Homo sapiens: one gene and its partners. The gene in region 4 interacts genetically with the main gene of each other region. Each region holds a gene or a part of one and is shown on either strand. Other genes may lie near its edges.

Region 1 (6,137 bases), on a different chromosome or scaffold from region 4:
CCCCAACTCTGGCCTGAGGCCCTTTGTAACAAAGAGGCAGACACTTAAGTTTCCATTAAGTTGTAGGAATTTATTTTAAATAACCTACAGTTGATTAAAAGGGAATTCATGATAAAAATAGAAGATACTTGAGGAAAGATGTGGGAAATGGACTCTGCACACACACTAAACTAACAATGCCTCTAAAACTAATGATTATAGCAAAAAATGTCTTCACATTAAAATTCTGCTTTTTATGTTTTTTTCCATTTTTTACACAATTACAAAAGAAAAAATAAAAGCCCTAAAATCTTGATTATTTTTCCTTTTTTTGGACCAAATACTCATTTTCCTCTAAGTTTATTGACCTGTGAAACTTTTTATACAATAAAATCTTTCAAGTGAAAGATTAGGGTTAAAAAGAAAAAGATGGATATCTTAAAGGGTACAGCGAATGCTCAGAACAAAGGATGATGGGAAAATGGTTTCAGTCACTGATTATTTCATTATCCTTAGATTCACTCGCCCTTCATCCCTCCCCAACCCCAATCTACACGATCTTTAAGATCAAGAAAAAGGTTTAAATATTTTAAAATAATTAAAAAGAAATAAAAATTCACATTTAAAAAGGAACACTCAAGTCAGGAAATATTTTCCCATCATGCTTTTTCTGTGAACAGGTGTCTGAACCAAAACACTGCCAAAGCCACGACTGCTTCAAGTTTAATGAAAATTGATCCCCATGACAATAGAGAGTGACGACTCTAACAGGTGCGCTGGGTTTTTTGTTCTACTTAATTTTAAATTCCTGAAATGGGAGAGAGGGAAGGGAGTTTAGGAATTTATTTCTATTAAAATATAGAAGTTATTGCAAAACCCTAACTGTAAAAACGCACCAATATAATCGGACTTTGCATACAGTAGCTAAGAGAATCCAAACATTTCAGTGAAACAGTGAATTTGCCTGGTAGAACGCTGACAAATTCCCATCCACTTGCCCTCTTGAAAATAAAAACAAAATTCAAAACAAATCATACAGCTAGAATTTTGATATCTGAAATATTTTTAAATAAGTTGTCCATAGGACAACTGGCTCAGCTCTCCCTTATAATATCTCCAGGTTTATCTTTTCGCAAAGATGTTGGTTTGTTAAGACTTGCTGCCTCTCTCCCCCAGGCACGAGGGCAAGTGAGGCTCAGTTTATCCATCTTTCCCAAACCACACTGTTCCTCTTCACAGAACTCTGCCTCTTGAGACTGGCTAAAACTCATAGTCTTCATCAGCCATGTCAATGGCCCAGGCAAACTTCTCCCGCTGGGTTTTGTTGTAAATCTTCTCAATTGGGACACCCCACTTCTTGCACCTGCAAACAAAGGAGAAATAAGGGGGGGATTAGGGTGACTCAGCAATGGCCCATATCTGAGGCCCAGGGTCAGATGTTCCATCTTCTCTTTCACATCTGTCTAGTGAGGATGCAAATTAATAGTGCACCAAGCATGTTCTAAAGGTTTTATGTGATCAACTCATTTAATCTTGGCAGTGATCTCTAAAGTAGGTGCTTCTGCAGATGTACAAGTGAAAAACGTACAGATGAAACTGAGGCAGAGACGTTAGGTAATTTACTGATTTTCTCACACAGCTAGCTGGTAAGTGACCTGAAATTTGAACCCAAGCAGTTTTTCTCCATGTTCTTAACCACTATACTATATTGCCTTTTAAGAGCTAACCAAATCTCTAGCACCAAACAAGGCAAAACGAGCAGAAAGAGGTACAAAAGACCTAGATGGAAACTTTAGCCCGGACTAGCAAGTGCCATAGGGGAGGATATCTCCACCTATGCTCAGAACTTAACAGCTCAAACTAAACATCTTCCATAACAAAGCCACTTGTTTCAGATGTTATGTGACACTGTGTGTGACACACAGAGAAACCTAGTATTTATCTGCTTTTGTTAAAGGTCCCTCTGCCTCTCTGTGTAAGTTGCTCAGATCTGTATTCTCATCTTTATCTCTTGTTCCTACCTTCAACTGCAAAAAAATTCAACGAAAAGTTTTGTTGAAGTGTAGAGATGGATGGGCTCTTTCCTATTCTTCCAGAAGCTAAGAGTTTCCATTCCTGTCCTAAAGTTCCATTAGGAATAGGGATGGCACCTGCCTCTTAAAAATATACACTACAAGGCAGTGTAACAGCACTGACCATTTAGGAGCAACCAGAATGTTGCAATGCATTTACAGACAAGGTTCAGCAACCAGAGTAACTTGTACACAGCTGAAGCCAGAAGTTTCCCCAGAGGACTAAAGTGTGTAGCTTAGGAATGGCATGTGAAGGCCACCAGTGCTCTCGGAACCCCCTCCACCTTTCTTAAGCTAGCAGCAGGAGCTCAAGGAGGGCTCAACACTTACCAAGCCACTGTGATCCTAGGGTCCAGATAATTGAGTTTGGAGGTTCCCAGGGCAATCTGTTTATTTTCCTCTCGGTCTGTGGCTTGAACTTCCAGCTTCATCAACTGTTCCTCCAGTCTCTGAACAGCCTTCTTCTTTGACTCTACTACCCTAGAAGAATAGCAAAGTCCTCAAGAACCAGGCCTGGGCTCTAGACAAGAGCACACTGTACCCATCCTGCCACTTTGAGTCAATAAAAGCCCTAGTATAGAGATTTCCAAAAGACATTTCTCAGAAACCATCGAAAAGCCAGGGCCCCAGGGGCCCTGACAGATGCTGCACACTTTTCTCTACCAGCCCCAACTTTCACAATACCAGGTACATACTTCTTCGTCTTTGCATCCTTCATGACCTTGGCATCAGCCTTAGCACTTTTCAGGTCTCTCCGGGCATCTGCTAGCTGTTCCTTCTTGGCATCAATCTAGGGGAAATAATAGTGGTAAGGTTATGAGCTGTAGAGGAAAAATGGCTCCACCTGAGAAGGTGAAACCAAGATGTTATCTGGACCAGGCTGTCTCTGTCAGTGGTTTGTCAGATAAAAAAAAACAAGGGTGGCTTCATGAAGGCAGGGAGAAGATGCACAAGGACTAGTGAATTCAACTATTTGTTCTTCAGTGATCTGGAAAGAAACAAGGGTTTTACAGGGCAGTAACCTAGGGGCTCAGGGAAAGGAACCCGCTGGGGCTGGGAATCTGGGTGCTGATCTTTCCATCAGAGAACACTCTGCTGTCATACATCTGGGAGGATGGCTACAAATGACAGCTGTTTATCAAATAGATCCTGTGCCAGTTCTTAGCTTTCATTCTAAGAACACTGTAGGAGCTCCTCTTTAGGAAACTGAAGCAGGATACTTGCATCTACTGGGCAACCCCAGCTCGTTCCTCAGATCCCACCAGTACTCTGGGAAGGCGGTGCCAGCTTCTCAAGGAAAATGGATGCACTGAAGAGAGTACTCAAGGGGCTACAAACTGGCAATTAAAAGACACCCAGGAAGCCAAACAGCTCAGCCAGTCTGTCCCAAACCAGGACATGGCAGGGCTTAGCTTTGGCATTCTGTTTTTAAAAGGAGAGCGGTCACCAGGCGCGGTGTCTCACGCCTGTAATCCCAGCACTTTGGGGAGGCTGAGGAGGGCGGATCACAAGGTCAGGAGATCAAGACCATCCTGGCTAACACGGTGAAACCCCGTCTCTACTAAAAATACAAAAAATTAGCCAGGCGTGGTGGTGGGTGCCTGTAGTCCCAGCTACTCGGGAGGCTGAGGCAGTAGAATGGCATGAACCCGGGAGGCAGAGCTTGCAGTGAGCCGAGATCATGCCCCTGCACTCCAGCCTGGGCAACAGAGCGAGACTCCGTCTCAAAAAAAAAGGAGAGAAGTCTGAGGTGGGAAGGACCTTAGTTGTCACTCAATGGATGTGAAAACACTTTTAGCTGTGGAGCTTTTTTCCCCATGTGAACTCTCATGGAATCCATATCTATAAGGGAAGAGACAAGGGCAGTTTCAGCCTTTCTTGCTTGTTAGAATCTTTGAAGCACCCCTGGTGAATCTAAGTTCTTCTCAGATTCCTGCTTAGAGACAGCAGTGGATAACAACATGGAGCTAGAGCCCCTGTCACTGAGCTCACGCTACTCAGAGGGCAGGAGAACCCCATACCTATGGTCATCTATGTGAGGTGAAGACAACCTCTACGGAGTAAATAACATGTCTGACACACACTGGGCTGCTCACTGAACCTGGAATTGTTTGTTGTTAGATACACACAGCCCAAGATTGGAAACAGAGGCCACCATTGTGAGAGGATCACTAAATATGTTTTACTATGAATGGCTTACTTCCAACATCTATGTTGTCCAAAGCCAAACTGAGGGGACTGATTCTATATACAAAAGCATCACAGACACCACTAGCCAGATTCTTTTTAGGATAGAAATGTAGCAAACCATGATCTTTTAACCATTTCTGTGAATGCTAAATTGGCAGGCTATGTCAAATTCTCTCAAAGCATCAAAGACTCCATTGATTCACTTGGCAAACAGGGGCGTGTGTTTGCTTTGTGGGCACACAGGAGAGGAATCCTGGGTTTGGAGGGCTCATCTGGCAGGCAGCCTGGGCTGCCCAAACCCGGTTCCAGAGCGAGAGCAACAAAAGACCTCCTCATGCTCCTGGGAGGGGTTTTCCTGAATTAGGTAAACAGCACCTGAATATTCATGCTTTTATTTCTGGCTTGTAATGATAACATGAGGAGAATAAACAATTCCAGATGACCAGCATTTAACAGAGTGGCAGCAAATGTGAGCTGCTAGGATGGGCCGTCTATAGAGTTCTTTGCCTGCCAATCATATGATCCAAGGAATCAAAGGTCTATGGATGTATACTCATTCACTGTGGACATGTACGTCTCTTCAAGAAAGCCAGATGGCATCTGTAGCATAAATTATAAGTTGTGTGTACCTTTTGAACCAGCTATATTACTCATGGGTACTTATCTTAAGGAAATCTCAACAAATGGAAAATATTCTGGGCCTTAAAATGCAGTCTCATTCCACAGTAGTAGTTCTTAAACTCCAGTTGTACAAGTATAGAATTCCATGAACTTGGATGAGAAAAAATCTATAATTTCAATAACCTCTTTTTGGAACTTATTTATATTTATTTTTAAATTTTTAATACAGACAGGGTCTCACTATGTTGCCCAGGTTGGTCTTGAATTACTCAGCTCAAGTGATTCTCCCACCTCAACCTCCCAAAATGCTGAGATTACAGGTGTGAGCCACTGCACCCAGCTTCTAGCTGAAATTTAGTATTTCTTCTTCAGTTATGAATATGGGGAACAAACCATAGTAATAGCAGCAGCACTTATGACTTTATCATCAATAGATGTTAGACATCTTCATTTCATATTTGAATTGCTGCAGAAATCTTAAAGTATCATTGATATTAATTAATTACTACCTTGAAATTTACTACAGGCCACCTCAAGACCTTAATAAGGAAGCACATCTATTATCGGACTTTAAAATGTATTTTGATAACTGTATTTCAATATAATTTGTTTCCTTTTTAACCCTGTGTATCTGTTCTATAATGAAATATCTGCAAATTCTCACTGTGGACCACCATGTTAGGATGAATTAGTTATGAAGTCACTGCTAACACAAAAATGTTCATCATCAAATGTTAAGTGCCTTATGGTTTAAAAGCTCAGTACCAGGCGGAGTTAGGAGGAGGAAAGAGGCTCAGGGACAAGGAATAGCACCTATTTGCACACCAGTCTTTCCCTTTAGGGCAGCAAGTTGTCTGGCACACGGCCAGTATTCAACAGATGTTTGATGATGAACTATATAAAAATATGATTCATGTGGAATGCGTAAAAATAAAAATAGCTATGCTAGGATTTGAAAGACTTTAAATATATAATTGTTTCATCATCTTTTCAATTTGAAACAATCTAATTTGGAAATGGCTGTATTTCTGGGCTGTAGCAAGGAATTATGAAGACTCTCTTTAAATCCACTTTCCTCATGTACAATAAGGACAGTAATTAGCAATTAGAATGTACACCAAAGTTAGTTTTTCAAAATAGGGAGTGGCCAGTATAGAACTTCTATGCGTAGAATAAAGATTTCTTGAATAATGGATACTCTGATATTCAGTATCTTGATCAGAGATTAACTACTATCATATTTCCATTTGTTTATCTTTAGCATAGACCTTCTAC
Region 2 (6,137 bases), on a different chromosome or scaffold from region 4:
AGGGGGAGCACTTGAGGCCATAAGTTTGAGGCTACAGTGTACTATGATAGCATGTGCGAATAGCCACTGCACTACAGCCTGAGCAACATAGTAAGACCACATCTCTCCCTGCCAAACAAGAGAAGGTTCCAAAACTGAGGATACAGCTGGATCTTTGCTTGTTCTCTTCATTCTCCGTTCCTTCAAAACCCATTTGGGCTGAAATATCAACGGCCCAACCCCAGACGTTCCCCAACCCCCTAGCCAAGATAAACCCTTTTACTTCTCACGGCATGCTGTTTATGTTTACACCTCACTAAAATTTATTTCAGTCTACCATGTGGTACATGTAGTTCACGTCTCACCTCTCCAACCACATGCTAAATTCTTTGAGGGAAGGAACTGTATCTCATTTTGGAATCTCTGCCTAACACATAAGTGCTTCAATAAATGTTAACTAAATTAATGAATAAAACATTGATCTGGTAACCTTCAAGTCAAAATGTGATTAAAGAAGCTGCTATTGACACATTCCCTGTCCTAGCCTTGTATTTTACTGCAGCCAAGCCTTCATGTAGTATATCAGGCTATTAGAAGATCTTCCTCTAGACTTCCTGGAGGGTCTTTTCCCTCAATGGCCAAGCTTCTCTGAACGGAGAAATTCAGTCTCAATCCCAGACCTTCTAAGATAACCTTTCAACATGCAGACTTGTAGTGTGGCTACAGATTTATTTCTGCTGTACACTATCCTGCTAATTACTATTTTTATAATAACACAGTTCCCAGAGAGCCTAGTCTTTGGGTTACAATCAAGGTGGTTGGTGGACAGCTCCCTACCTAAAACTGCCCATCAGCTATAGTGATATCTACAGTCTCAGAAACCAACATATACCTGATCATGAGAAACTAAGTTTGCTTCCCTACCTTTAACATTCTTTTAACTGTGTCCTTTTGGAGGTATGCCAGGAACCACCCTGGGGAGGGAGACAGGCTGAGTGGGATTCTAAATACCCACACTCCCTCCTACACTTGCCAGAGCAGCTCTGCTTGCAATTACCTTGGAGAAGTCTCCTATAAGGTCCCTTGGGTCATTGTCCAAAATGTTCTCAATGGTTCCTTTGGGGGAAGATGCCAGGGATAAAGACTGATGAAGAGTCTGTAACAAATCAAAGGTAGAGAATGAGACAAGGGTTCTGAATGGAACTTCCGAAAACATTCACTTGGAGCATGTCTCGAGGAGACTAAAATGTTAATGCCTACATTTAGTAAGAAGTTTTTATTTTATTTTATTGAATCTGGAGTGAACAAAAACAGATGTGGGTTATTGACTAGGTCTCCTATTATTCCAGTGTCTAACCGAATTGCTCTGAAACTAAGTTTTCCTTCCTTCCTTAAAAAAAAAAAAAAAAAAAGGGGGTGCAGGTGGTTTGGCTCATGCCTGTAATCCCAGCACTTTGGGAGGCCAAGGTGGGTTACTCACTTGAGCCCAGGAGTTCCAGACCAGCCTGGGCAAGGCAGGTGAATCGCTTGAGCCCAGGAGTTCCAGACCAGATCAAAGAGCAAGACCCTGTCCACACACACACACACACACACACACACACACACACACACACACACACAAGCTGGGCATGGTGGTGTGTGCCTGTAGTCCCAGCTACTTGGGAGGCTGAAGTGGGAGGATCACCTGAGCCTGGGGAGGTCGAGGCTACAGCAAGTGGTGATGGTGCCACTGCACTCCAGCCTGGGTGACAGACTGAAACTATCTCCAGAAAAAGAGAAAGAAACAAGGGGGGTTAAAACTAGGATTAAGTTTAGAAAAAGTATGTCTTAACTTTTTTTTTTTTTTTTTTTTAAAAAGACAGAGTCTCGCTCTGTCGCTCAGGCTGGAGTGCAGTGGAGTACAGGAGTGGAGTGCAGGCTGGAGTACAGTGATCTTGGCTCACTGTAACCTCTGCCTCCCAGGTTCAAGCGATTCTGCCGCAGCCTCCAGAGCAGCTGAGACTATAGGTGTGCGCCACCACGCCCAGCTAATTTTTGTATTTTTAGTAGAGACGGGGTTTCACCATGTTGGCCAGATGGTCTTGAACTCCTGGCCTCAGGTGATCTGCCTGCCTTGGCCTCCCAAAGTGCTGGGATTACAGGTGTGAGCCACCGCGCCCGGCCTACGTCTTAGCTTTATTCAATGAGAAGAGGAAGCCAGCTGTTAAAAAGGGGATAATTTGAGTAAAAGGATAATACTTGTAATACACAGAAACACATTAAATGTTTTAACCCATGAATTCCTGATTATTATTGAAAAACAACTATAAGTCTTGCTTTCAACTTTGGAAGATGCTTGGTAGGGCATTATTTGGAAACTGGCAAATAAAGAGATCCAATATTCATCCTGCCTTTCCCAAGGGTAACCACAGTGTTTGATGAGTGTAAGTTTCTCTTTATAGATATATTCTAGCTAATTAATGAGGAAAGAATGTAAAAACTGCAGTATCATCTTTCTGAAACCCTGGTGAAATGAAGTAAAAAATCTGGGCAGCAATCACCAATGGCTGCCTGGCACATTATACTTCCTGATCAAAGTAGACAAAATCACCTATGTGATATTCTTGCCAAACAAATAGAACTGGAATTCAATCCATCCTTTCCAGAGTTAGGTTAAGGCAATATAGGGGATAGAAGACAATGTCTGAAGACCCCACAGGACTGTGGGAACCTTTGCAGGACAAATGACTTGAGCTCTTCAACAAATAAAAATATGCAAGAGGGAAACAGATGGAGCACTGAAATCTGAAGAGTAAGAGACCTATTGACCAACTACAGTGTATAGACTTTATTTGGATCCAGATTTTAACAAATAAACTGTAAAAGTACTTAGGAGACAACTGGGGAAAACTGAACCCAGACTGGATATTTGACATTTGATAGTAAGAAATTTAGCTCTGCCGGGCGTGGTGGCTCATGCCTGTAATCCCAGCACTTTGGGAGGCCGAGGTGAGTGGATCACTTGATGTCAGGGGTTCGAGACCAGCCTTGCCAACATGGTGAAACCCCGTCTCTACTAAAAATATAAAAAATTAGCCAGGCGTGGTGGTGGGCGCCTGTAGTCCCAGCTACTTGGGAGGCTGAGGCGGGAGAATTGCTGGAACCTGAGAGGCGGAGGTTGCAGTGAGCAGAGATCGACCCATGGCACTCCAGTCTGGGCGACAGAGCGAGACTTGGTCTCAAAAAAAAAAACAAACAAAAAAACACCCAGAAATTTAGCCCTGTATGATATGTTTGTGTGAGGAAAACACCCCACAAACTCAAAGTGATTTTTCTTATTCCCTCACTCAACAGCAACAGAAGACAGAAGTGCTGTTACCCCCAGATATGAGGGGATTTCTCCCTACCAGCAAGCAAGCAAGCAAGCAAGCAGTTCTGCAGTGGAAAATAGCTGGGTGCCGTCCAATTCAATTCTGACACTATCTACCTGCAGAGCGTCAGATCAGGAAGTTGAGGGCCCAGTCCTCAAAACCACACCACCCTTCAGACACCAGTTGGGCCTCTGGATCTTCTGATCTACGACCACCAGCTTTAAGTAGGGGTTCCCATGACCCCTTCTTTGGGTTTAATTTGCTAGAAGTGGCTCACAGAACTCAAGAAAACACATTTACCAGTTTATTATGAAGGATATTCAAAGGATATAGAAGAAGACATGCATAGGGTGAGGTATGGGAGAAGGGACATGGAGCTGCCATGCTCTCCTTGGGTGCCCCAACCTCCAGGAACCTCCATGTGTTCAGCTATCCAGAAGCTCTCTGAACCCTGTCCTTTCAAGGTTTTAGGGAGGCTTCATTACATAGAAATGATTGATTAAACCATTGGCCATGAGTGATCAACTTGACCTTTAGCCCCTCTCCTTTCCGTAGATATTGGAGGGTGGGGCTGAAAGTTCCAACCTCTAATCATGTCTCTGTCTTTCCAGTGACCAGTCCCACCCTGAAGCTATCAATCATTAGTATACAAAAAGATATGACCTTGGATATTCCAAAGATTTTAGGAGTTATATGACAGAAGGGGAAGAAGACTAAATATATATTTCACAATATCACAGGTATGATAACTGTACTCTAGCAATGCTTGACATTTTCTCCACAATGGAATTTAAAATACTAAAAATTAAAATATATGAAAATAAACCAAAACATGAGGGCCAATATATATACAAAATAATTATTAACAGTATTATTTTATCCAAAAAAAGTTTTACAAATATGGAAATAAAAAGGTCAATCTCTATTACGGTAAAAGAAAATGAATATTCTGGCCGGGCACAGTGGCTCACACCTGTAACCCCAGCACTTTGGGAGGCCAAGGCGGATATATCACCTGAGGTCAGGAGTTCAAGACCAGCCTGGCCAACTTGGTGAAACTCCGCCTCTACTAAAAATACAAAAAAAATTAGCCAGGCGTGGCAGTGGGCACCTGTAATCCCAGCTACTCAGGAGGCTGAGGCAGAGACTTGCTTGAACTGGGGAGGCGGAGGTTGCCGTGAGCCAAGATCCTGCCACTGCACTCCAGCGTGTCTCAAAAAGAAAGAAAAAGAAAATGAATATTCTTTTTTTTTTTTTTTTGAGATGAAATCTCACTCTATCACCCAGGCTGGAGTGCAGTGGCGTGATCTCTGCTCACTGCAACCTCCATTTCCCGGGTTCAAGCGATTCTCCTGCCTCAGCCTCCTGAGCAGCTGGGATTACAGGCTCATACCACCACACCCAGCTATTTTTTGTATTTTCAGTAGAGACAGGGTTTCACCATATTGGCCAGGCTGGTATGGAACTCCTGACCTCGTGATCCACCCGCCTTGTCCTCCCAAAGTGCTGGGATTACAGGAGTGAACCACAGCACTCAGCCAGAATATTATTAAATATTGATAGATATTTTCTGACATGTATACAATGTAAAGTTTCACAAATGTTCTTGCCCTTATAACCCAGAATTTCATTTTTAATTAGAAATAAAAGGAAAATCAGGGGAAGGGAAATTCTAAATGTCCAGAAGGTGATTTATTCAATTATTTCTAGTATACTTGTAAGTCAAAACACTATCGGCCAGGTGCACTGGCCTGTGCCTGTAGTCCCAGATACTTTGGAGGCTGAGGTGGGAGGACTGCTTGAGCCCAGGAATTCAAGGCCAGCCTGGGCAACACAGTAAGACCTCTTTTCTACAAAAAATAAAAAAAAATTTTTTTTAAATTAACTGGGCATGGTGGTGCATGCCTGTAGTCCCAGCTGCTAGGGGGGCTGAGGCGGGAGGAGTGCTTGAGCCCATGGAGGCTGTACTGAGCTGTGATCGTGCTAGTGCACTCCAGCCTGAGTGACAGCGCTAGACCCTGTGCCCCCCACAAACAAAAAGAACAAAAACCAAAACCAAACAACTCTCCCAAAACAAAAATACTATGCAATTATTAAAATATTCTTTTAGAACAATACTTTAAAAACATTCATAAAGCATTAAAAACAAAAGCAGATACGATAAGGCAGTAGGCCTAAATGCTAAATGTTTTCCTAGCTGTCATCTCTCTAACCTTTTAAGACTGTGATGAGATTTACTTAAACCTTTTCATGCCACAGAAAACACAGGTAGTTCACCATTTTATAATGCTTAATACCAAACCTCAATATAAGGACAGTATAATGAAGGAAAAACATACAAATAAACCAGTGTTTTGTGTGTCTAGCCACAGAATAAATAGAAAAAATAACACAAAGGACCATAGGACTTAGGCCCAGACAACCATGACACTAGCTCACCCATGCCAGGTGCTGTGTCTAACACCTATGATCCTGGCACTTTGGGAGGCCAAGGCGGGAGGATTGCCCTGAGCCCAGGAGTTTGAGACCAGCCTGCGCAACATGGCGAAAGCCTGTCTCTACAAAAAATACAAAAATTAGCTGGGTTTGGTGGCACACACCTATAGTCCCAGCTGCTTGAGAGCCTGAGGTGGGAGGACTGCTTGAGCCTGGGAGGTGGAGAGTGCAGTGAGCGGAGATCATGCCACTGCACTCCAGCCTGGGTGACAGAGAGACCCTGTCTCAGAAACAGGAAACAACAAAACAGCCTATACAACTATGAGCAATGCAATGAATTAACTTGAAGAATTAGACAGACAGGGCTGGGCG
Region 3 (6,137 bases), on a different chromosome or scaffold from region 4:
TCCCTTTGCCTGAATTCAGTAAGTGACCTTGGGCCAGGACATCAGAAAAGACAGAGGAACACTCTAGGACAGAGCTGGGAGAGCATGCCCTGGGTGGCAAGGGGGCACCAAACCTTTTGGAACCAAAAAAAATAGCAGAAAGCTGCGAGGAAGTGAATCATAGTAGCTCCAGGCCCCTGTGAGTGAGGTCAGATCAGTTTTGATTCCGGCACTGCTGGCAACATAGGAGGCGCTGTCACTGCTGGGCTCTGGACCCTGTGGCCTGGCCCCCTGGAACATCTTCCCCGGGATCAGGGGTCCTTGGACAGGCTGTTGTAAGGCTCGTCTGGAAGCCACAGCCCAGGTCTGGGCACCTGCCTGGTGCCCTCAGCTGGGAGGCCTCTCTGGCAGAGGCGGCGGCGTGGGATGTCGTCCAGTGTCCACAGCAGCCTGAGGCGAGGCGTCCCCTTGCCCCGGCTCTGCAGCGCCATGGGCTCGGGGCCTGTCTGGCTTGCTCGCTCACCTGCCTTGTTCTGTTTGTTTTGGCTGCTCTGCCTTGCCCTGCCCTGCCCTGCCCTGGCTGGCTAGCTGCCCCGCTCCGCACTGGGAATGGCAGCTCGGTGCCTGAAGGACGGAGCTCCCGGGACAGAACAGCCCCCTCTGCAGGCATGCAGCCCCAGCCTTCTCTCTGCTCCTCAGCCAGTAAGTGTGAGGGAGGCACATTCTGGCTTCCGTCTCCCTGGCTCGTCCTGAAGCCCCTCAGGGACCCCCACCACAGCTGTCAGTCCCACCCACCTGCCCGTGGTAGTAAGCTCTGGGAGCATGGCCTCTGCTGGGGGTGGGGGGTAGACTGGAGGTGCTGTTGAGACCAGGCAGGGGCCCCTGAGTCTGGGGCCCAAAGAAATATGAGAAGTGTGGGTGGAAAAACATGGCCTGGGATGAGGGGAGTAGAAAGCCCCCAGGATGTGCAGTGGGCCTTGCCTCAGCGCTGAGCCAGGAAGAAGGGCAGAGTCGGAAGTCAGGTCTGTGGGGGTGGGAGTGGGATGATGGGGAAATCGTGACAGCGAGGAACTGTGTTGGGGATGTAGTGCTTCCTGAGTCTCAGCATAACAGTATTAAGAGCATGGGGTCAGAGGCAAGATAGATCTGAGTTTAAATCCCAGCTACACTGCCTTCAAGAGTGTGAAGTTTAACCTCCCAGAGCTGCAGGTTCCTTATCTGTAATGTGGAAATAAAATGGCACGCACCTCAGAGCCTTGTTAGATAAAAGACAAGGCAGTAGGAAGTCTTGATACGGTGCCTCGATGGGTTATCAGTAGCTCATCCTCATATTTCTAGTTACGTCTGTGCTGGAGGATGCCTTTGTCTGCTGCTTTTCCTCCCACCATCTATCCTTGCAGAGTTTCTAAGCACAACCCTCTTCGCCCGTGGGGCCCCAGTCAGGTCATCCAGATGGGTCTGGTGGGGTTGGAGAGGGTGTGTGTGTTGTGGGTGCACACCTGCCTGCTGCTTTTGGAAGCCGATCGAACTCCTTGCTTCCCTTAACCTGCTGCTTGCTCACCTGGAGCTGTGGCCTAGCGGGGCTGACGGCTGTGGGGCCCCCTCCTGGATGTGCCTTTGGCTGCGCTGCCCTGTCCCAACTGTGCTGCTTGGCTGTGCTGGCCCGGCTGGGCCGTGGTGGTGCTGTTCTAACGCTTGCAGTTGTCTTGCAGCCTTTTGCTCCTGTGAGGAAAGGGTTGTGGCCTGGCCCCGCCCAGGGCTCGGGTTAGGATGAGCCCAAGCTCAACCCAAGCTCTCCCTTACCCTGGTGGCAGCCCCTGCTGGTAGTGGCATTCCCTATAAGAGAAGCCCATGCCGGCAGGACATCACCAGCTGTCCCTTGGCTTTGGATGGGTTGGGGAGGAGGCCTCTGGAGGGCACCACCTCTGCCTGCCTGTCAGTCTGAGCCCTGTCTGGTTTTCCTGAGGAACACGTCCTGGCAATGAGAGCTGGTGTGAAATGTGCAGCTTTCCCAAGCCTCGAGAGGTAAATGGAGCAGCCTCTCTGGTACAGGCTGTCCCAAGTTTTTACAGTTCTGGGATCATTTCTCCCAGAAAAGCCCTGTGGAGTTGAGCAGTGGGAAGCATCCATCCTAGGGTTCTGATGGTCCTTTGGCACCCCAGCCCTAGCTGGATTCTGCTGTCAGGCTACCTGTCACCCAGGGCTGGGTCCTGGCCACTGAATGAGGGCTACGAGTGGGGGTGGTGATTGAGACCTGACTGAGCCCCTTCAGGTGAGAGAAGTAAATTGGGGGTGGAAGCGGCCTTATTGGGAGATGCTTGTGAGAGAGGCTGCTCATACAGGGGAGGGGCTCACAGCATTCACGATGTACCAGGCTCCTCACCTGTTAAAGGCAAGCGTGTTTTCTGCAACCTGGTTGTTGATGGAAAGGGAGGCAAAGGCCAAAGAACCATAACTAATGGCTGGGCTTCAGGAGAAAGTGGTCATTGTCTCTGCAGACTGCAGAGAGGGAGACGGGAGGGAAGGTGTGTTCGCTCTTCCTGCCAAGGGCCCTAGAGACAGAGAAGAGGGATGTCTTTGTCATAAGCGATCACAGGGGACTCCTGAGGACTGGGGAGGGCTCTCTGTAACTTGGGAGGTTCCCCAGTAGGTAAATTGATGGATTTTTCTCCCCCACAGTGCGAAAACAGGAGATCATTAAGATTACAGAACAGCTGATTGAAGCCATCAACAATGGGGACTTTGAGGCCTACACGTAAGTAGAGACCCATTTTTTTTTGTGACCTAAGTCATCTCCCAAGGCCTTCCCTGCTTCCAGACAACAATTAGGACCCTGGGGAAAGGGAGGTTGGACCTTGGGCAAAGTATCTGAGTTAAGCCCTCTCCTAAACTGGGAGCCCTTCCAGGTAGATTCCCTGAGCTCACCCATGGTATCCTGGCAGTGGGCCGAAAGCACAGGGCTGAGTGGCTCAGCAGGCAGGCCTGGAAGATCTTTGCTGTCTTGTCTGGCATGGCCACAGGTAGCCTGCTGCTACTGGATAGACACCGCTGATAAGGAAGGAAGACAAGTCACTCCATAGAAGCCTGATAGGCTGCTTTTTTTTTTCTCCCTGTAGGAAGATTTGTGATCCAGGCCTCACTTCCTTTGAGCCTGAGGCCCTTGGTAACCTCGTGGAGGGGATGGATTTCCATAAGTTTTACTTTGAGAATCGTGAGTGGGTTCGTGCTGCTGATATACTCCTGCCTGCCCCTTTACCCCTTTGTCTCTGTCTCCTGCTCACCTTCTCATCCCAGTTGCCCACTTTTCCCTTATTTGACCTTCGTGCTGCACTCCTACTCTGTATGCTTGTCCCCTTGTGCCCCGATGGTTGTAGACAGGCACCTTTGAAGGCCCTGCTCCTGAGCTCCAAGTGCCATTCATTCTGCAGCTGCTTTGTGGCAGTGCCAGTCACCACAATCAAGCTCACTTATTTCTTGCCGGGCGCGGTGGCTTACGCCTGTAATCCCAACACTTTGGGAGGCTGAGGCTGGCGGATCACGAGGTCAGGAGATCGAGGCCATCCTGGCTAACACGGTGAAACCCCATCTCTACTAAAAATACAAAAAATTAGCCGGGCGTGGTGGCGGTGCCTGTAGTCCCAGCTACTCGGGTGGCTGAGGCAGGAGAATGATGTGAACCTGGGAGGCAGAGCTTGCAGTGAGCCAAGATCAGGCCACTGCACTCCAGCCTGGGCAACAGAGCAAGACTCCATCTCAAAAAAAAAGAAAAAATTATTTAAGCCTCACCTCTTTCCAAGACGGATTGGAAGGAAACCCTTTGAGATTAGGTTGAGATGATCTCAGCACATAAGAACTAAGCTCTGTGTCTGCAGGTTTCACAATAGAGGAAATTAAAACCAGGATAAGAATGTGCAAACCAGGGCACTGTTGGTGATTTGCGAGATCGGAAGTTGTGGCTAGAATCTTCCTGACTATGGAGGAAGGCAGACGTCTTGTATAGGGGGTGGGGTGTACATTCTGGACAGTTCATGGAAAATAAGGGGATAAGAAGCTGAATCATCACCCCCTCCCATCTTTCTCTCTGCTCTATGAGACCCTCCCCTTCCTTATTTTTATCTCTTCCCACTTTATGCTGGGCCTTCCCTATCCTGCCCTGAGTTATAGTTAGTCACTAACTTCTCCGCTGGCTCCCACCCTTATCACATCTCAGCTACATATATAAACTCTCTGTTATCTAAGTAATTCTATTAGCCAGAAGCAATTCCAGAGTTTATATTAGTACTAGGAAGGTGTCATGTAGCCCCTGTCTAACATTTGAATTGAACTAAAATGTGAATCTCAATAAAAGCAACACAGTTTTCACAGCATATGCTGATAATGGCAATCCAACTTCTTTTGCCTTTTCCCCAGAGAATCCTGGGAATATCCTGAGCTTGGTGCTTTGATGATTCTATTTCAGCTTTGGTGCCTTAAAAAAAATTACAAATCAATTTTGAATGGTTTAAGTTCATGATTTTGTTCTGCAGCCCTAGCTAGGGGTGAGCCAAGCCTTATGAAATCTAAACTCAGCCTAACAGAATAGAAAATCTATAGGCTTTAGTTAAGAGTCACATGGTCCTGAGTTCAGGTGTGTGATTTGAGCAAATTATTCCTTGAGCCTATTTCCTCATCTTATAATGAAGAAAATATTATCCACCAAGAAATACAGCTCGGGCATGTAAAACCCCAGCACAATGCCTGATTAAAAGCGCAGCAGGTACTGTCACTGTTACCCATCTTTCTGTTCCTTTTGGATAAAGGAGACTAATGTAATGTGGCATCCTGGCCTCTGGAGGGCGTTCAGGGGTTCGGGGGTGGGGGGGGGCGGTACTTGGAGATTCTGGGAGTGGTTGCTTGGGAGATGGTAAGACTTGGAAGTGCAGGCTGGGAGGAAAATGCAGGTGCCCAGGCCTGATGTCCTCTTACCTACCCCACCCTGCCCTGCAGTCCTGTCCAAGAACAGCAAGCCTATCCATACCACCATCCTAAACCCACACGTCCACGTGATTGGGGAGGACGCAGCGTGCATCGCCTACATCCGCCTCACCCAGTACATCGACGGGCAGGGTCGGCCTCGCACCAGCCAGTCAGAAGAGACCCGGGTCTGGCACCGTCGGGATGGCAAGTGGCTCAATGTCCACTATCACTGCTCAGGGGCCCCTGCCGCACCGCTGCAGTGAGCTCAGCCACAGGTGCACCTGGTTGACGGGGGAGAGGGGCTGGAAGGGCCTGGGATAGGTGGGGTCAGAGGAAGAAGAGAAGGCTGGGAGGTGGTCCTGGGAGAGGAGGTGTGGGCCGTCCCAGAGGACTGGCAAAGCCTGGCAGAATGGTTGCAATAAGTTATGCTTGGAAATCAGACAGACTAGGGTCTGGCTCCGTGACTCCAAATTGGATGACCTCAGACAGGTTACTTCCCCTCCCTAAACTGTTTCCTTAGCTGTCAAAGAAAGGCAGAGAGTGGTGCCTACCTCATTTAATCATTGTGAGGATTAAGTAAGATACTATAAGTAAAGCACTTAGTTAGTGCTTAGCAAATGGGAGGCAGTTTTGTATTTAAGCATTAGCTTCACCCACTTTCCCCACCTTCTCAGGCCGACTTGGCCATGTGTTTAGCGTGCTAAAGTCGCTGGAACTCATCTGTGTGCTCATTGTCCTCTGTTCTGTTACCACATTCTGTCCTGTTTGACAGGGGCTTTAGGAGATTCCAGCCGGAGGTCCAACCTTCGCAGCCAGTGGCTCTGGAGGGCCTGAGTGACAGCGGCAGTCCTGTTTGTTTGAGGTTTAAAACAATTCAATTACAAAAGCGGCAGCAGCCAATGCACGCCCCTGCATGCAGCCCTCCCGCCCGCCCTTCGTGTCTGTCTCTGCTGTACCGAGGTGTTTTTTACATTTAAGAAAAAAAAAAAAGAAAAAAAGATTGTTTAAAAAAAAAAGGAATCCATACCATGATGCGTTTTAAAACCACCGACAGCCCTTGGGTTGGCAAGAAGGCAGGAGTATGTATGAGGTCCATCCTGGCATGAGCAGTGGCTCACCCACCGGCCTTGAAGAGGTGAGCTTGGCCTCTCTGGTCCCCATGGACTTAGGGGGACCAGGCAAGAACTCTGACAGAGCTTTGG
Region 4 (6,137 bases):
CCCTGATGCTCATGTGGCTGTTGACCTGTCCCGGTATGAAGGCTGAGACGGCCCCTTCCCCACCCACCCCCACCTCCTCAGTGTGCTATGGTCTGGGCATGGAGCACTTGCGAGAGGTGAGGGCAGTTACCAGTGCCAATATCCAGGAGTTTGCTGGCTGCAAGAAGATCTTTGGGAGCCTGGCATTTCTGCCGGAGAGCTTTGATGGGTAAGAGTGGGCACGATGACCTGAGACAGTGTCAGGGCAGACAGAGTCCTGAGGATCCAGATGTGGCAGCATCTCTTGGGGATGGCAGGAGACAGAAGTGGGGGGATCAAGAATGCAAAGAAAGCAGATGGGAGACCAGAGGAGCAGGGCCTTTGGTGGGTGGGGGTGATTATTTTTGTAAATGACATGCTATCCGTGAACAAGGACTTGTATGGAGGTCAGACCATCTAGATAAAGTAAAATTCCCTTTGAGTTCATAGCAGCTTTATTCAAAATATCCCCAAATTGGAAATAACTCAAATGTGCATCACTAGGTGAAGGAATAAACAAGTGGCAGTGTATCCATTTGGTGAAGTTCTACTTAGCAACCAAAGGAAATGAACTACCGATACAACATAAATGAATCTCAGAAACATTACATTGAGCAAAAGAAGCCAGAGACAAGATTCCATACTGTCTGATCCCCTTTATGTGAGGCTCTGAACCGAAAAAACCACTCTGTGGTGGGAGAGATCAGAACGGTGGTTGCCCCAGGGTGGGGGGCTTCAAAAGGGAGGCACACAAGGACATTTCTGGGGTAATAGAAATGCTCTGTATAGTGATTGGGGTAGTGGATACATGAGCGAATCCATTTGTCAAAACTCATCAAACTGTGTGATAAGAGTCTGTGCATTTTATTTATTTCATTTTATTTTTTGAGATAGAGTCTCACTCTGTCAGCAGGCTGGAGTGCAGTGGTACGATCTTGGCTCACTGCAACCTCTGCCTCCTGGATTCAAGCAATTCTCCTGCCTCAGTCTCCTGAGTAGCTGGGACTACAGGTGTGTGCCACCATGCCCAGCTAATTTTTGTATTTTTAATAGAGATGGGGTTTCACCATGTTGGCAAGGATGGTCTCGATCTCTTGACGTCGTGATCCGCCCACCTCAGCCTCCCAAAGTGCTGGGATTACAGGCATGAGCCACCACACCCGGTGCATTTTATTGTATATAAGTTATACTTCAATAAGAAATGAATTGGGGCCAGGCACGGTGGCTCACGCCTGTAATCCCAGCACTTTGGGAGGCCGAGGCAGGCAGATCACTTGAGGTCAGGAGTTCAAGACCAGCCTGGCCAACATGGTGAAACCCCATCTCTACTAAAAAATATAAAAAATTAGCCAGGCTTCCTGGCATGCGCCTATCATCCCAGCTACTTGGGAGGCTGAGGCAGGAGAATTGCATGAACTCGGGAGGTGGAGGTTGTAGTGAGCTGAGATTTCGCTATTGCACTCCAGCCTGGGCGACAGAGTGAGACCCTGTCTCAAAAAGAAAAAAAAAAAAAAGGGTCAGGCGCCGTGGTGCACACCTGTAATCCCAGCACTTTGGGAGGCTGAAGCAGGAAGATTGCTTGAGCCCAGGAATTCAAGAACAGCGTGGGCAACATAGTGAGATCCCATCTCTACAAAAAAACACAAAAAATTAGCCGGGCATGGTGGTACGCACCTGTAGTCTCAGCTACTAGGGAGACTGAGGTGGGAGAATCACCTGAGCCTGGGAGGTGGAGGTTGCAGTGGGTTGAAATCATGTCACTGTACTCCAGCCTGGGTGACAGAATGAGACCCTGTCTCAAAAAAAAAAAAAAAAAAAAAATTCCCTTTCACACTTCCTTTACCTCCACTCCCCTTTCCAGAGGGGGCCATGGTTAACAGTGTGTGTGTTCACCTAGACCGTTTATGCATCTGTAGACACACACACAGTGAAGTGTGGTTTTCGTCGTTTTGGTGGGGAGGTTGGTTTCTGTAAATGGGAACATATAGGGAGCACTGTCTGCACCTTGCTTTGAGAGCCGGTCATGACAGTTCCCATTGAACTGCCTTGTTCTTTCAATAGCTGCAGAGCAGGTGGCGGCAAGGAGAGGCAGCTAAGAGCCCAGACTTGGGAGCCAGACTGCCTGGGTTTGAAACCCGGCTCTACCACTTACTAGGCATGTGACCCTTGTGCTGTGCCTCAGTTTCTTCATCTGTAAAGTGGGGGCAAGAACAGTCCCAACTTCATAAGATGGTTATACCACCATGCCTGGCCAGATGATTATAAAGTTTGAATGAGTTAATATTTGTAAAGCTCTTAGAACAGTGCCTGGCAGATACTAGGTGCTCCTAAATGTTGGTTTTTATTATGTGGCTGGGTGGCTCGGGGTTTTATTTAACAGCTCCCCTATTTACTAATAGACATTTAGATCATGTTCCATTTTCACTCTTACAAACAGTTCCACTTTGTGTGTGGCTCTGGGAACATGGGCCAGTGTCTCCCTAGGCCACATTCCTAGAAATAAGATTTCTTTTCTTTTTTTTTTTTTTTTGAGACAGAGTCTCGCTTTATCGCCAGGCTGGTGTGCAGTAGTGTGATCTCGGCTCACTGCAACCTCTGCCTCCCGGGTTCAAGTGATTCTCCTGCCTCAGCCTCTCGAGTAACTGGGACTATAGGCGCGCGGCACCACACCCAGCTAATTTTTGTATTTGTAGTAGAGATGGGGTTTCACCATGTTGGCCAGGATGGTCTCCATCTCTTGACTTCGTGATCCGCCCGCCTCGGCCTCCCAAAGTGCTGGGATTACAGGCGTGAGCCACTGAGCCCAGGCAGAAATAAGATTTCTAGATCAAAGGATATAAATACTGTTTTGATAGATGTTGCCGAACTAAGGCCTGGGCTTTGAAGCCCAGGATGGGAACAGCTGGGCTCGATGGGCAAAGGGTTTGAGTGAAGGCATTCATGGTGGGGAGTGGCTGGCATGGCCAGTGCTGGGAGTGATGTCCACCCTGTTCCTGGCCCTGCTGACTCCTCTCCTGACCCCTCCAGGGACCCAGCCTCCAACACTGCCCCGCTCCAGCCAGAGCAGCTCCAAGTGTTTGAGACTCTGGAAGAGATCACAGGTGGGCTCTGTCTCTGCATCCTGTTCTGCAGGGGCTGGGAGTCCTTGTCCTGTCCCCACTCCTTTAATCTCACCCTCTGCCTGCAGGTTACCTATACATCTCAGCATGGCCGGACAGCCTGCCTGACCTCAGCGTCTTCCAGAACCTGCAAGTAATCCGGGGACGAATTCTGCACAAGTGAGCACTGAGAAAGAGGGGGCCTGATGGGGAGGAGTCCCAGGGAGGAGTCCCTGTGGGAAGCTTTGGGCCTGAGGGAGTACTCCTGTAGCAGTAACCTTTCCATGAAAGTCTGCAGAGTGTGCTGGGGATGGAGGAAGATGAGAATAGCCTTTGCTGACCGGGAAGGGGTCCGTGGTAAGGTGCCCACCTTTCTCCCATAGTGGCGCCTACTCGCTGACCCTGCAAGGGCTGGGCATCAGCTGGCTGGGGCTGCGCTCACTGAGGGAACTGGGCAGTGGACTGGCCCTCATCCACCATAACACCCACCTCTGCTTCGTGCACACGGTGCCCTGGGACCAGCTCTTTCGGAACCCGCACCAAGCTCTGCTCCACACTGCCAACCGGCCAGAGGACGAGTGTGGTAAGACAGGGAGCCCAGTGTGCGCACTCCCCATCTGCCAGCACACAGCAGTGCCCAGGGGGCCCTGGCAGCAGCGTTCTTGGACTTGTGCAGACTGCCCGTCTCTGTGCACCCTTCTTGACTCAGCACAGCTCTGGCTGGCTTGGCCTCTTGGCATGGCTTCTCTAGCTGGGTCCTACCTGCCTTGGCATCCTTCCCTCCCCCTCTGTTTCTGAAATCTCAGAACTCTTCCTCTCCCTACATCGGCCCCACCTGTCCCCACCCCTCCAGCCCACAGCCATGCCCACAGCCAGTTCCCTGGTTCACTTGGACCTGGGGCCTCCCCTAAAAGTCCCCTGCGGTCCCTTCCTCCTCACTGCAGTGGGCGAGGGCCTGGCCTGCCACCAGCTGTGCGCCCGAGGGCACTGCTGGGGTCCAGGGCCCACCCAGTGTGTCAACTGCAGCCAGTTCCTTCGGGGCCAGGAGTGCGTGGAGGAATGCCGAGTACTGCAGGGGTATGAGGGGCGGAGGAGAGGGTGGCTGGAGGGGTGCATGGGGCTCCTCTCAGACCCCCTCACCACTGTCCCTTCTCTCAGGCTCCCCAGGGAGTATGTGAATGCCAGGCACTGTTTGCCGTGCCACCCTGAGTGTCAGCCCCAGAATGGCTCAGTGACCTGTTTTGGACCGGTGAGCTGCTGGCGGGCTCAGAGCTGGGTGGAGGGGGGCAGCGAGGGGGATTGCCAGGGACTTGGCAGGATGGCGAGATGCAGTAGGGTGTGCTATCTGGTAAAATATCCCTGGAGAGGGCTCAGCGCTCAGACCTGAACAGCAACAGAGTGGCAGAAAAGGGGCCTGGGGGACACTGGGGCCCTTCAGACTATGAAAAGGTTCTAAGGAGGTCTGTGTTGGTGGCTGTGACTGTGGCTGTGCTAGGGTGGTGAGCCCTGTGGGCTCAGGCGTCAGACTACCTGGATTCAGACCCAGCTCCTGCTTCCAACCTTGGTTTTTTATTCCTAAAATGGGTATTGTAATAATACCTACCTTGCTGGGGTGTGGCAAGAATGAAATTAAACAGGGCTTGGCACAGTGAAGCACGGGAAAGGCTTTCTACAGAGCAGTGACTGTTGTTACTCGCTGTTACACCTTAGGTAATGCGTTTTCCTCTCTGGGTGCCTCCCATTTTCTGGCTCAAGTCCCTGCCCAGGATCAAGCTTGGAGGAGGGCCCCGAGGGAGGGGCCACAGAGACTGGGTGAAGAGCAAGGGTGTTTGTCCCAGGAGCATGGCGAAAATTGCTGCTGGGTGGCCTTGGGAAGCACAAAGGGGACCCAACTAAGGGCCTGATCCTACTGCCCTGGGGGTGTCAGTGCCAGCCCCCCACAAATCTTTTCTGCCCCCCCCAGGAGGCTGACCAGTGTGTGGCCTGTGCCCACTATAAGGACCCTCCCTTCTGCGTGGCCCGCTGCCCCAGCGGTGTGAAACCTGACCTCTCCTACATGCCCATCTGGAAGTTTCCAGATGAGGAGGGCGCATGCCAGCCTTGCCCCATCAACTGCACCCACTCGTGAGTCCAACGGTCTTTTCTGCAGAAAGGAGGACTTTCCTTTCAGGGGTCTTTCTGGGGCTCTTACTATAAAAGGGGACCAACTCTCCCTTTGTCATATCTTGTTTCTGATGACAAAAATAACACATTGTTAAAATTGTAAAATTAAAACATGAAATATAAATTAATGCCCTAGCAGTTCTATCCCCACTGTTAATAATTTGAAATATTTTTCCTCTAGTTATTTTTGTCTGTGCACATTCTAATATGTATATATAAGTTAACATATATTAATATTATTCTCCAGTTATTTTTATCTGTGCACATTTTAACACACACACACACACACACACACACACACATATGTATTTTTAGACGGAGTTTCACTCTGTCGCCCAGGCTGGAGTGCAGTAGTACAATCTTGGCTCACTGCAGCCTCCACCTCCTGGGTTTAAGCAATTCTCCTGCTTCCGCCTCCTGAGTAGCTGGGATTACGGGAACGTGCTACCTTGCCTGGCTAATTTTTGTATTTTTAGTACATAGGATTTCACCATGTTGGCCAGGCTGGTCTCGAACCCCTGACCTCAGGTGATCTGCCAGCCTCGGTCCCCCAAAGTGTTGGGATTACAGCGGTGAGCCACCATGCCCAGTCATATATTTCTTTTTAACAAATAGAATCATAGATCATACATATTGTTTGCAAATTGCTTTTTCTCACTTTCCAGAACCTTGAAATGTTTTTCCATGTTCTAACATGGTGATCTACCTTATTCTTTTAATTTTTCTTATTTAGTTGTCTTTACACATGAAACACATGAATACATCCTTGTGATAAACATTTTCAGTAACATAAAAGTATAAATGTTACAAAGCCAACGTGCCCTTTCACTCAACTCCCTGTCCACCCAGTCTCTCCTG
Region 5 (6,137 bases), on a different chromosome or scaffold from region 4:
AAAAAAAAGGTGCTGGTCAAGCGGAAGGTAGCGACAGGCAGATGCAGATGACAGGCAAAGCAATCCCAGCCTGTAGGGGTCACCCACCAGGAGCCGGGCATTGTCCCAGGAATGGGGGCCACCGGGCTTCAGCAGTAAGCCCCACTGAGCCCCAGACTTGCTTCTTAGGAGCCTGCAAAAATGGTGCCAGCTTGGCGGGACGCGGTGGCTCACGCCTGTAATCCCAGCACTTTGGGAGGCCGAGGCGGGCGAATCATGAGGTCAGGAGTTTAAGACCAGCCTGACCAACATGGTGAAACCCCGTCTCTACTGAAAATACAAAAATTAGCCCAGCATGGTGGCGTGCGCCTGTAGTCCCAGCTACTCAGGAGACTGAGGCAGAAGAATCGCTTGAACCCTGGAGACAGAGGTTGCAGTGAGCCAAAATCGTGCCACTGCACTCCAGCCTGGGTGACAGAGTGAGACTCTGTCTCAAAAAAAAAAAAAAAAAAAAAGGTGCCAGTTTGGCAGAGGGAATGGCCACCTAGGAGCCAGGGAGTAGCCACTGCCACTTTTCAACTGGACACACAAAGTCTCCAAGGGGGAAGCATGCTTGGTTCCCTGCCTGCGACAGCCAGGGGAACCTGCCGGGCAGGCCCTTTCTCCTTCCCAGGGGCTCTGCTGTCAGCCCCGGCCTGGGAACAGCAGGAAGCAGGACCCGGGGCTCTGAGGCCATCTCTCCCCTCAGCAGCCACGCCTGGGCATGGCCACCACATTCTTCCCAGCCCACAGCACTCCACTTTCTTCCTTAAAAAGAAAAAAATGTTTTTTAAATAAAATAAACAACCCCCCTCCCCCCAAGCAAGAAACCAAACACGAGGTCAGGCCTGAGCAGAGTCCTTGAATGGAAGGCCCCCAAAGTGGCAATTTTAGGGTTTCCTGTCTATTCCCATGGGTCTGGCCGCCAAGGGAACTGGCAGGTTGGAAGAACTTGCCACTGGGGGCAGCTCCTGCCAGGGTGGCAAGCACGGGCGAGCACAGGGGTGGGACAGCCTCCTGGACTGGGTCACCTTGTCTCCAACACTGCTCCCTGATACTGGCAGAGTCTGGAGTGGCAGTGAGCCCAGAGCGTGTCCCTGTCCCCCACCCAGGTCAGCAACCCTGAGATCCGGGGGAACGTGGCTCCCAAGATCTACTCTGGAGCATCAGGAGAACCAAGCGGCCTCAACAGTCCCAGATGGAAGGACGCTAAGGTTCCCAACACCTTTGGGCAAGGGCCTCAGAGTTGCCTTTGCTCTGGCCGTTGGACGGGTGCCTGGGTTCCAAGTGGCCCTCACCACCTGGTCACAAACTTGAAATGTCCAGTTTCCCCAGCTGTAAAATGAGGATGTCAATGAGATGCTGAATCGCCACCGTCACACTGGCCATTTACAAAGCCTGGGTGGACACGGCAGAAGGAGGGCTTCTAATATGCCAGGCTGGCCATGCTGCCCGCCGTGCCCCGCCTGCTGGGCCATGGGAGAGAGCCGCCAGAGCCCCATTTCTCAGTGCCCCACGGCTCACCGACAGTCCATGCTAGAATCACACAGTAACTGGTCTTGCTCAAGCCTCTGCTCCACATTTGCCGTGTCCTCGGAGAGGATGGGGCCTTGGAGGATGGGGCCTGTGGCCAGGGCTGAGCCGAGCAGGGTGGGACTCCTCTGCTCACAGACCAGCTTCAGGCACTGCATTGCTCTACTGCGGGCCCAGTGGGTAGAGCCCGTGGCTTGCCCTGCCAAAGTATCAAGGGCTCCTTGGCACAGAGGTACTTGGTGCCCACCCAGCTTTGGGAAGGAGCAGTCAGTCCCACCTTGGCACCCCTGCAGTTACAGCGGCCTGCACCAGCTCCTACTGCTCCCGGAGCAGGCTCAGCCCAAGACAGTGAGCAGCTGCAGCACTGAGCACTGGGTGACAGGGAAGGAGTGGGTGCTGAGGGAGCACTTCCGGTCCCTTCTGGCACCTCATGGTTCAGAAGAAATGCAAAGTCCAGGCCATCCTCTGTGGCCTGGGCTCTCTTAGGTGTCTCCTGCTCGGGGTCAGAGGCTGTAGCTGTGTGGACAGGAGGGGGTGACAAGTCAGAGACAAACACACTCTTGCTGATGGCAAGGAAGCTGGCTGGGCCACGTGCTCCGAGGCCCACAATGAGTTCGTGGCAAAGAAAATGTCCAAAGGCTCCCTGAGAAACGGCCTCCACTAGAGCACCCTCCATCCCCCCCTTGACCTCTGTGGAAGAGCTGGGTGCAGGGCTCAGAGGACCCTGACTTGTGCCCAGCCTCTGGCCTGGCTGCCCTCCCGTCCCTGACCAGGAGCTGTAGGAGACGAGCAGCCCCCTTCCCTGGAACCCAGGATGGGAGGCAGCCTTGGCTGGCAGCTGGCAGCCAGGGGCCATGCTTCCTGTGCCCCTCATGTGACAGTGATGCTAAAGCTTTGCCACGCCAGGACGGTGCAAGCTGGCATGAAGGCTACAGGCCTGGCAGGTCTGGTGCGGCCACTCTGGGAACCGTCCCCTGGGAGATGAGCGAGCATTCACCAACCAGTGCAGCAGGGCCTGTGGCTGTGGCCGAGGTGCTCCCTGTGGCATTTCCAGGAAACCAGACACCAAGGTGCCAGCAGCAGAAGGAAGTCCCCTGGGGCTTCTTAATGTTTCTCAATGACTCTCCCTGGGGCGAACAAGGACGGGGCCACAGATCAAATAGGAAAGGCCAGCCCAAACCGGCAGGTCCAAGGTAAGCCCTGAGCAGGGGAGAGAAAAAGCCAGCTGGCCCCGCACACACAGCCAGGGTCTGCAGCAGCCTGGGCTCCGGAACGTCGTGTCGGCCACAAAGCAGCTCCCTTGCGGGGATGCTCAGGAAGAGGCACTCTGGCGGCCTTGTCAAATGTCACGGCTTCTTCACAAATATGACATGAGCACCCACACCCTGCAATTTACTGCTGACATGGAGACCGTAATCTGCATTACGCTAGAATGCACCAAGAACAAACTTCCAGAATTCCATGCCCTGTGGTTTCCAGGAGGGGGTTATCCCCCATCCCAAACACGAAATGGCTCTAGAGTCAGAAAATTGCCCCCACCTGGGAACAGAGCTGCCAACATGTTAATACCAGAAAACCCACTTCTGCCAGCATAGACGCGTCCTTTTGCAGTAAACAGCAAAGCAGAGAAGGGATATTACTGTTTTAGAAAAAAGCTGCAGTCAAACACCTCATTTTTAGTATCTCAGTTGCAGCAGAGTAGAAATAACGTGAATATAGCTCCATCCAGCAGTGGAAACTGACCCATGGGGAGCCGGCGGGGAGTAGGGAAGGGGCCCAGGAAGAAGGGGCAGGTGTGAGGGAGGCTGTGCATCCTCAAGGGCTACACTGTGCTTTTGGTTCCCACTGTGTGTTCCGAGGCAAGAGCATACCCTGAAAGCAACAGCCAAGCGCGTGGAGCCCAAACCCACCAGCCTGAGCACTCAGTCCCTCTGCCAAGCCCACCTGGGTGCAACCTAGGCACGGGGAGGAAACACTGGCTGCGGAGCGCTCCTGTACCTGACGTCACCGGGAACTTACTACTAGGAATTGATTGTGCATTAATAGGACACCTCATTCTGGGTTAACAGCCCAGGTTCCCCTGCACAGATTCCAACCTGCATTGCTCACACTCCCTTCAAATCCATTTACCCAGGTAACGGCAGGCGGGCGACTTAATGGCAAATAAGTGAAACGCATGCTCTGGAAAGGAAAACAGACGGGAAAGACATCCCAGAGACCCATTCCTGGGGAACGGCGGTGCTTCAAAGGCCCAGAGGGAGTGACTGCAGGAAAGATCATCTTGTTTGCAGGGAAAGGAGTTGGGAGAACGCTGCCACTGAAGTGGAAAGTTCTGGGTAAGGGACAAAGGCTGGAAGCAGCAGGGTTTCAGCTGGTGCTGCAGGAGTGAAGGAAGGAGGGAGGGAGAGAGCTTCCCGCTGCACCCCTTCCCCCACAAATCGAGGGCAGGAAGTTCTGGCTGCGAAGAGTTAACAGGAACGAGGCAGCGGAGGAACAGGGGCAGGGTCTGGGGAGACAGGGAAGCCAGAAAGGGGCAGGAAGGAGGAAACTCTCGGTGGGGGAGGGACCAGGAAACAGCCAAGAAATCGGGAGGCTGCAAGAGGCACCCAGCTCCGACAATCTGCTGCTGGGGCTGCCACTGTCACCGGGGAGGGCAGAGGAACCTCCTGGGAGCGCCCAGGCAGGGCTCCTCAGCTAGGAGCCCAGAGATTAATTACACGAGGCCTCAGTGGTCATATTAAGCAAATGATGATAATTACAAGACTGCTGGCTGCTGGGAAAGGGAGACAGCAGTTCCTTCAGGGCAAGGCCCAGACCACAGACCCTGAGAGTGAAGGGGCAGCCGCCTCGTTTTACAGAGGTGGAAACTGAGGCAGGTCCAGTCGGGCTAAGGGACTCGCCTGGGTCCCATGTGAGCTGGTGGTAGAGGGAGAAGCCAGACCTCCCATCTTCCAGATACACAATGCTGCCTTACGCTACCTCCTTCTACAAGAAGGTCGGGGAAAGGGACTGTTTCCTTGGATTCTATAGGGTGACAGAAGGGGAGGCCCCTGTGCCAACTCAGTGTGGCACTGTGCCTAACCACTCCCATTCCCTAGCCTTTGGAACTCAGAGCTGTGATGCCAGCCCCAGTTCTTGGCCAAGACACATCCCCAGGCACCAGCCATGGAGGGGCTGCCAAGGTGGGCCACCTCAAGGTATGAACAATTCCCAGTGGCAACCTGTCACTGGGACAAGCCACAGCCCCTCTCCCTGACTCTGACCTTGACCTTGTGGGTATGGGGAAGACAGGCTCCTGCATCTGACGGGACCCTGGAGTGGGGCTGCCCCTCGGTGCAGTAGCTTTGCCACGGCAGCTCAGTTCTCCATCCCAGCCAACGGGAAGAGGGCTGAGCCTTGTGAACTGTGACAGCCGATGGCCCCAGACAAGGGGTGCCAGTCAGCCCACACCGCAAAATGTGGACAGAGGCGAGAACAGTGGTGTGCAGGGGTGGGTGGAGGGGATAAAGCACAGCAAAGAAACAGCACTGGCCTGTGTGGTCCAGAAACCCGAGGCCCCATTCCAGCTTTCTTCTGTGACGAGGACACGACTCCTCCCCTCCCTGAGCCTCAATAACTTCAACTGCTAAAGGGGAGAATCCTAACTGCTGGGCCTGCCTCTCACAGTTGTCAAAAGGACAAAACAGAGTAAAAAGCACTCTGCAAGTGGAAAAGTGTCAGGCAAACATGAAACATGGTCAGGATCACCACTGGGGCGGCGGGGGGCGGGGGGCGGCGTGCTCTGCCCCACTGGGTGTGCAAGGCAAGGCGTTATGCAAAGGGTGGCCTGCTCCCTAATGCCCCAGGCCTGGACCCCCATGTAGGGGTGGCCAGTAGCCCTTCCCAGGCCTTAGCGCACTGACATTCGGCGCTCGCACCTCCAGTCCGTTTCACAGATGTGGGCGATTTGCGGAAGGCCATGCTGCTGATGGTGACCCAATGTGAAAACCTGGGCTGCCTGGCTCGGCCTCCTGCTGTCCTCCTAGAATCCTATCCAACCTTGTTTCTGCTCAGGACTGCATGGGGGTGCCACACAGTCCTGGTATTTCTTGAGCAACTACTACATGCAAGGCATGGCCTTGCCAGCTTCACAGGTTGGTTGCTGGAAGAACTGAGATGACAGATATCAAAATAGGTAAGTCAGTAATAATTCCTATCATTATTGCTATCACCGCCATCACTACCATGGATGGGAAAGGGGACAGGAAAAGAAGACCATCTCGTTTCTCAGGGTTCTGACACCTGCAGAGCCAAGGCGGCGCCCCATCAGAAGCAATGCATTCTGGGGGGAGATTACCCGAACGCAGACAGTTCCAGAAAAGGCCCCGCCTCACAGTTGCAGAACTCCATCCTGCAGGAGGGTCTCGAGGCTGCAGCCACCAAGGAGAGCCGTTTTGAGCCCTAGAGGCTGACTCCCCCGTTTCCTCCCTCGTGGGTTTGTCATTTCTGAACTCATTTCTGTACTAACCGTCACTGCTCCCTGGACAGCCCCCAGCTGACAGTCAGTCTGGTTCCTGTTTTGAGAAATCTGATTGCAAATGTCTTAG

The links.
Region 1: changes in ERBB2 (region 4) and TOP1 together harm fitness more than expected from each alone (negative genetic interaction), as found in Homo sapiens cells (one large-scale study listed by BioGRID).
Region 2: changes in ERBB2 (region 4) and CDC25A together harm fitness more than expected from each alone (negative genetic interaction), as found in Homo sapiens cells (one large-scale study listed by BioGRID).
Region 3: changes in ERBB2 (region 4) and CAMK2G together harm fitness more than expected from each alone (negative genetic interaction), as found in Homo sapiens cells (one large-scale study listed by BioGRID).
Region 5: changes in ERBB2 (region 4) and GRK2 together harm fitness less than expected from each alone (positive genetic interaction), as found in Homo sapiens cells (one large-scale study listed by BioGRID).

Annotation. Positions count from the first base shown.
Region 1 is NC_000020.11:41,118,400-41,124,536, reverse strand, and holds the end of TOP1 (DNA topoisomerase 1), read right to left. Parts: intron 2,842-6,137; coding exon 2,747-2,841; intron 2,532-2,746; coding exon 2,382-2,531; intron 1,343-2,381; coding exon 1,240-1,342; 3' UTR 50-1,239; downstream 1-49. UniProt on the Homo sapiens protein: Releases the supercoiling and torsional tension of DNA introduced during the DNA replication and transcription by transiently cleaving and rejoining one strand of the DNA duplex.
Region 2 is NC_000003.12:48,166,810-48,172,946, forward strand, and holds part of CDC25A (M-phase inducer phosphatase 1), read right to left. Parts: intron 1,136-6,137; coding exon 1,037-1,135; intron 1-1,036. UniProt on the Homo sapiens protein: Tyrosine protein phosphatase which functions as a dosage-dependent inducer of mitotic progression. Directly dephosphorylates CDK1 and stimulates its kinase activity. Also dephosphorylates CDK2 in complex with cyclin-E, in vitro.
Region 3 is NC_000010.11:73,814,076-73,820,212, reverse strand, and holds part of CAMK2G (calcium/calmodulin-dependent protein kinase type II subunit gamma), read left to right. Parts: intron 1-567; coding exon 568-681; intron 682-1,317; exon of another isoform or gene 1,318-1,945; coding exon of another isoform or gene 1,946-2,004; intron 2,005-2,658; coding exon 2,659-2,734; intron 2,735-3,095; coding exon 3,096-3,190; coding exon of another isoform or gene 3,191-3,504; exon of another isoform or gene 3,505-4,346; intron 4,347-4,965; coding exon 4,966-5,198; 3' UTR 5,199-5,210; intron 5,211-5,707; coding exon of another isoform or gene 5,708-5,769; 3' UTR 5,770-6,137.
Region 4 is NC_000017.11:39,712,241-39,718,377, forward strand, and holds part of ERBB2 (receptor tyrosine-protein kinase erbB-2 isoform a precursor), read left to right. Parts: intron 1-81; coding exon 82-208; intron 209-912; coding exon of another isoform or gene 913-1,029; intron 1,030-3,045; coding exon 3,046-3,119; intron 3,120-3,205; coding exon 3,206-3,296; intron 3,297-3,478; coding exon of another isoform or gene 3,479-3,499; coding exon 3,500-3,699; intron 3,700-4,030; coding exon of another isoform or gene 4,031-4,060; coding exon 4,061-4,193; intron 4,194-4,274; coding exon 4,275-4,365; intron 4,366-4,826; coding exon of another isoform or gene 4,827-4,928; intron 4,929-5,079; coding exon 5,080-5,240; coding exon of another isoform or gene 5,241-5,244; exon of another isoform or gene 5,245-5,417; intron 5,418-6,137. UniProt on the Homo sapiens protein: Protein tyrosine kinase that is part of several cell surface receptor complexes, but that apparently needs a coreceptor for ligand binding. Essential component of a neuregulin-receptor complex, although neuregulins do not interact with it alone.
Region 5 is NC_000011.10:67,268,367-67,274,503, reverse strand, and holds part of GRK2 (beta-adrenergic receptor kinase 1), read right to left. Parts: intron 1-6,137. UniProt on the Homo sapiens protein: Specifically phosphorylates the agonist-occupied form of the beta-adrenergic and closely related receptors, probably inducing a desensitization of them. Key regulator of LPAR1 signaling.